2 separate regions of the Homo sapiens genome follow, and region 1 is linked to region 2. Evidence: fine-mapped expression QTL. Tissue or cell type: tibial nerve. Region 2 holds a variant in brackets; the other region holds the start of a gene. All regions are shown on one strand. Distances are from middle to middle.

Region 1 (2,911 bases), 22 kb after region 2:
GCTAAGGATCTTTACACTATATGTAATTTTCAGCTCAGAACATCACGCTTTGAGGCAGGGTTAAAAAAAAAAAAAGGATATGGACTTGGAATTAGAAGAACTGTCTCTGTGTGACCTCTAAGACCAATATCTAGGAATCAAGTTTATAACTTGGAAACATTGAAAACATTTTGTAATTCTACCAACTTCATTGTTTGGCTGAAGCACAAATGATACTATGTGTAACAAAGCCTGCTGTAGAAACGTGGTCTCACAAAAAACAAACAAAAAAAACCATGTTTCCAAGTCTTCCTAAAGACTTTAAGTATCCAGCTGTGTAAGTTTAGTGCTCTAAGGTATACGCAAATAAGCAGATGAGAATGGAAACATATCGCAGAAAATTATTAAGTGCATGCACAACATTTATTCATTCATTCACTCATTCATTCATCACGCACATCCAGCAACTATATCAATATCCTGCAGGGCACTGTGTGGAAAACAGTGGTTAAATAAATTCAAATCTGCCCTCAGGGGATTTAGTTCCTTTTAGTATATTAATAACTAGCAAGCTGCCCCTCTTCATGTCAAAGCTTTACGTCAACAAAATAAGCGGTAGGGGATCACCTTAAACGTCACGGGTGCTGTCTCTTTAAAACGTAATAGAACTCTGATCGCATCGATCACAGGCTCACAACGCCCTTCCATTCATCGCTCTTATTCCAGTCCTGGTTACTACCCCACTTCCTGACATCAAACCAGGGAGAACGCGAGTGTTAGTTAACATGGCTTGGTGTGTGGCCACAGCTGACCCGGCGCATACCTCCCGTCCTCTCTTTACAGGGCTGGCGGTGTCTCGGGGCTCGGCTGGCCATGCCTGGAGCGCGGGGTTTGACTGGGCCGCCGTTGTTGTAGTGACCGGGAGGCGCTGCCGCTCTGGGCAGACGGTTCCGGGAGCCGCACGGTCCCCTCTCCTTCCCCATCCTCTCCCCTCCCCTCTCCGGGTTCCCCCACCCACAGGAGCCTTGGGCCGACCACTCCCCCGATGGCCTCAGCCACGGTAAGGACGGGTTGGAGGTGGGGGGGGTCCCTCCCTGGAGCCTGTCCCGCGGGCTGCGGGGCCAGGTCCGGGCCGAAGCCGCACCTGGAGGGAGATGGAGGCAGGTGTCCGTAGCCGGGTCCTGAGCCCCTCGTCCCGGGGCGTCCGTATCTCACTCTCTGCCATCGGGGCGGACGGAGTGCGGAACCCAGACCCGGCTCCCGGACGCTCTTCCCCGAGTTCCGGAGCTCCGGACTGAGCTGGGCGGCCCCACGGCCCCCAGAATTCTCGGAGGGTTTCCGTGGAGCGCCTGCGTCAGAATCACCTAGGAAGTATTAAAAAAAAAAAAAGTACCAAAGCCGAGGCGCATCCTCGCACCTGCCTGCCTTGGGCCAGCGGGCGGGGCCCGGGAACGTGCATTTCAAAGGGGCCGCGGTTCCTGCGATGCGCTGGACTCTGGGAAGCGCGAACAGAGCGTTTTGCGGGCTCTGCGGGGAGAGCTGGCGCCGGCGTCTCCCTGTAGCAGGACTGGGCGCCGCGCCCGTGGGTGGGCTGCTGCCCGGCCCCGCCGCCCAGCCAAGCCGCCGCCTGGGTGGCCATTCCCAAGCCGGACTCCGGGGAAGTGGCAGCGTGGATCCCAGCCGCCAGAATTCGAGGTCTGCGGCGGCTTTCAAAACTTGACAACTTTCCTTTCCAGGAGGACCCCGTTCTGGAGCGTTATTTCAAAGGCCACAAAGCTGCGATCACCTCCTTGGACCTCAGCCCCAACGGCAAGCAACTTGGTAAGTCTTATTCTTGTTTTGCTTTTGTAATGAGACTAAACTCCATGGGCCGGAAACCTTTCCTCCTGTCCGGGCAGGGTCCCTAGGAGAACGGCTAAGGGCCTGTATGAGGGTTGAGAGCACCCGGAGACGAGGGCCCAGCGCGGCGGGGCGCAGCTAGGGCCCCCTCTGCCATCCCGGCCCCCAGCCCCCGGCCCGGCCAAGAGCCTCCTATCCAGCGGTCTGGGCCTGGCGGACGACTTTCGCAAACTAACCACCAGGAGGAGTGAGTGGGAAGGGGAGGGGTTTCTCCTCGGCCCGGGGAGGGTGGGGTGTTGGCTGGAGAGTTTGTGAAAAGTTGTGAGCCGAGCAGGAGGAAGTAGGGAGAGAGGAGTTGGGCTGTGCCGGAGGCCGAGGACCGAGAGGGCTCAGGTGACCCCTGGAAAGCCTGGGTGGCTGGAAAGGAGCCTAGCGCCTGCATGAAAGGAAGAACCTGCTGGGAAGTACCTGAGCTCGAGCTGTGGGTTCCGCCGCCCTTCCCCTGCGTGGTGGCTTGGTGGCCGCGTCTGCGCCTCAGCCCTGAGAATCCGGATGGCGGTGAGGTGGACTTGGGCAGGCAAGAGCTGCCTGCTGCTGGCGTTTTTAACAGTGGCCTATATCTTCGTGGAGCTCTTGGTCTCTACTTTTCATGCCTCCGCAGGAGCCGGCCGTGCCAGGGAGCTGGGGTCAAGAAGGCTCTCAGACCTCCAGAAAAATACGGAGGATTTGTCTCGACCGCTTTATAAGAAGCCCCCTGCAGATTCCCGTGCACTTGGGGAGTGGGGGAAAGCCAGCAAACTCCAGCTCAACGAGGATGAACTGAAGCAGCAAGAAGAACTCATTGAGAGATACGCCATCAATATTTACCTCAGTGACAGGATTTCCCTGCATCGACACATAGAGGATAAAAGAATGTATGAGTGTAAGTCCCAGAAGTTCAACTATAGGACACTTCCTACCACCTCTGTTATCATTGCTTTCTATAACGAAGCCTGGTCGACTTTGCTCCGTACCATTCACAGTGTTTTAGAAACTTCTCCTGCAGTTCTTTTGAAAGAGATCATCTTGGTGGATGACTTGAGTGACAGAGTTT
Region 2 (2,911 bases):
GCCACTCTCTGGCCCAATTCCTGCAATGGTGCCCCATTTCATTGAAAGTGAAAATGGAAATCTTGCAGCAGCCTGGAATTCTCCTTCCCCACATTGATTCCCGGGCCTCACATCAACTCCTTTTCTTTTTTCTCACTTTGTCTTAATCACACTGGCTTTTTTGCCTTGAACTTGTCAGGTTCTCTCCTGCCTCACTATTCCCTCTGCCTGGATTCTCTTCCCCAGCTACCCATATGGCCAATATCTTCTCCTTTATACCTTTGCATAAATATCACCTTCTTAGTGATGCCGATCTGAACAGCCTATTTAAAACTGCAAACTTCCCCACAATGCTTACTCACTCTGCTCTTTTTCTTAAGCATCCCTTATCAATCTAACATATCATGTAATTTACTCATTGTTTATTGTTAATTGGCTGGCTGTCTCCCCTCACTAGGCATCAGTTCCACAAGGACATGGAATGATTTACTTACTCATGGAACCTCAAGCATATAGACTAGTGTCTGACACATAGTAAGTGTTCAGTGTTTTCGTTTTGTGAATGAATTGATTAATCTGTGATATGTTGTCCTTCTCACTGGCCTATCAGCTATATCTAATGCAAGTCATTGCATTCTTAGGTCTTTAATAATTCTAGGTCTTTAGTAAGTGTTTTTGATGGGCTGTTTAGCCAGAAGAATCCACTAATTACGCAGCATTTCATAAAATTTTTTCATCTAGTTTCTATTTCATGGAAATGTTTGCCAAAAGGTCATCATTATATGGAGCACCTTTCATTTTTTTCTTTTTATTGAATAAGAATACATGTATAGAAAAGTACAACTTTCATAAGTGCACAGCTTGTTGTAATTTCACAAAAAAAAATTAACTCAGGTAACCAATACCCACAGGAGGAAACACAACATTACCAGCCCCTAGATGCCCCCTCATGCTTCCCTTCCTGACTTCTGATATTACAAATTAGTTTAACACAGTTTATTTTAAAAACACCATATTCAGATTTCAATAGTTTCAGTAATGCTTATATAAAAAACTGACTTTAAAAAATTGATCTGATTTCCTCCGTCACTGACAAAGACAACATAAAAATGGAACTTGTTCTAAAAAAGCACAAATAGAAGGAATTTATCAGAAGCTCACATTTCAAGATAGACTTTCTGGCAAAAATCAATTAAGTATAGA[C/T]ATTGGATATATCTACTTCTACCTCATGTACATTTAGGAAAGACCATGAAATACATTACTTATCAGAAATATATGTCAAGGGCTAAGCTATTGCTTTGTTTCCTTATTGGTTTGCAATATTGATGCTGTTATATCTCTAAGGATTTTCTTAAATCAAGTGAGAAGAAGCTTGATGAAGAATCATTTCACTTAAACTTTAGGGTAAAGAACTGCACAGACGTGGGTGAGCTGTTATTCTTTATCCCCTCACACCCTCAGATCTATTCTCAGCACTTCTCTTCTCTGCAAAAGCTGATGAGTCAGACTTCTTACTGCTTCCCGCCTTTCCCTCAAACCGTACCTCTGGTCTCCCCGGGTATTCCCTATGACCCTTTGATGAGAAAAGAGGGTGACAGTGGCCTGGTCTGGTTTAAGAATTATCTGTCTGGGGTGGCTCTGCAAGCCATAGGAAAATCTTCCCATAGACAGAACTTCAGGAAGTACATCTGGTTGGCCACTGACATGAAAGAAGGGATAAGCTGAGGTTTCCTGAAATACACAGGCAGGGGCTAATGGGTTGGTCAAATTATCAGGGACCTGGAAGGTTGGTGCCAAGATCACCTAAAGGGAAGTTATATAATGGACCTCTAAAAATGGCTAGTCTTTGAGGCTATTTGAATAGCATATAAATGTTCCCCCAGAGGACATCTACCTCACAGAAAGCTAAATGAGGAGGTGGCCAAGATGACCTATCCCTTGGTTGTAGTGAGCCTCCTTCCCTGGCTGCTATGGTCTAAATATTTGTGTCCCTTCAAAACTCATATGTGGAAACCTAATCACCAATGTGAATGGTATTAGGAAGTGAGGCCACTGGGAGGTTAAGTCCCCAGGGAAGTTAAGTGCCCTTATGAATGGGATTAGTGCCCTTATAAAAGAAATCCCAGAGAGCTGCATAGCCCTTTCCACCATATGAAGACACAGAAGGTGGCCCTCTGTGAACCAGGAAATAGGCTCTCACCAGACGCAGAGTCTGCTAGAACCTTGATCTTGAACTTCCCAGCCTCCAAAATTGTGAGAAATAAATTTCTGCTGTTTATAAACAACCCAGTTTACGGCGTTTTGTTAAAGCAGTTGAGCATGCTAAGACACTGGCCATGTTTGTGCTTGGGTAAATGTCTCATGTACAAAGTGGCCATGGGAATAGGAACAGAGGCAATGAAATAAATAAACATGGACTTCCTCACATCACAGCTGATCTGCCACTGTCACTGCTGAGTGCCCAGATTTCTAAAACGGAAGGCAACACTGAACCCTTATTTGGCACTATTTCTTGGAAGTATCAGCCACCCAGGTTGATAATATCAGACCACTACATTATGGAAGGGGCAGGAATTTGTCTTCATGGGAATAATTACATATACTGGAGAGTAACTTCCCTTTCCTGTGCATGTTGCTTCCGCCAGCACTACCATATGTGGTTGATAGGCTGCCTTATTCATCCCCATGGTGTCACACACAGCATTGTCACTGATCAAGGAACTCATTTACAGTGAAACAGCTGTGGTATTACGCTCACATCGTAGAATTCATTGTTCTTACCTGGAAGCAGCTAGATTGATGGAATGATGAAATGTCCTATCGAAGGCTCATTTATGGAGCCTGCTGGGAGACAACATCTTGTGAAGTTGGGGTGCTGTCCTATAAGTGGTCAGATCAGTGGTTGATACATGGTGTTGAATACATGGCTCTG

Evidence for each region. PIP is the estimated chance that this variant, and not a neighbour inherited with it, causes the effect.
Region 1: it holds the start of POC1B-AS1, and the variant in region 2 is fine-mapped to the expression of POC1B-AS1 in tibial nerve (GTEx, PIP above 0.99). The same link has a PIP of 0.9 or more in esophagus muscle, lung, subcutaneous fat, thyroid and tibial artery.

The regions. Positions count from the first base shown.
Region 1 is chr12:89,524,009-89,526,919 of GRCh38, reverse strand. It overlaps POC1B-AS1 (POC1B antisense RNA 1), which reads right to left and starts at 1,350. Exons shown (of 2, transcript NR_146294.1): 1 at 1,124-1,350. It overlaps POC1B-DUSP6 (POC1B-DUSP6 readthrough), which reads left to right and starts at 873. Exons shown (of 11, transcript NR_189589.1): 1 at 873-1,039; 2 at 1,716-1,800. It overlaps POC1B (POC1 centriolar protein B), which reads left to right and starts at 873. Exons shown (of 12, transcript NM_172240.3): 1 at 873-1,039; 2 at 1,716-1,800. The coding sequence starts at 1,025. It overlaps POC1B-GALNT4 (POC1B-GALNT4 readthrough), which reads left to right and starts at 658. Exons shown (of 3, transcript NM_001199782.1): 1 at 658-1,039; 2 at 1,716-1,800. The coding sequence starts at 765. It also overlaps GALNT4. RefSeq lists silencers at 918-1,177, 1,728-2,107 and an enhancer at 2,198-2,407.
Region 2 is chr12:89,545,869-89,548,779 of GRCh38, reverse strand. No RefSeq gene overlaps it. Among named protein-coding and RNA genes, the nearest start is that of POC1B-GALNT4, 21 kb to the right of the region's middle. The variant C/T (reference allele first, on the strand shown) is at 1,183.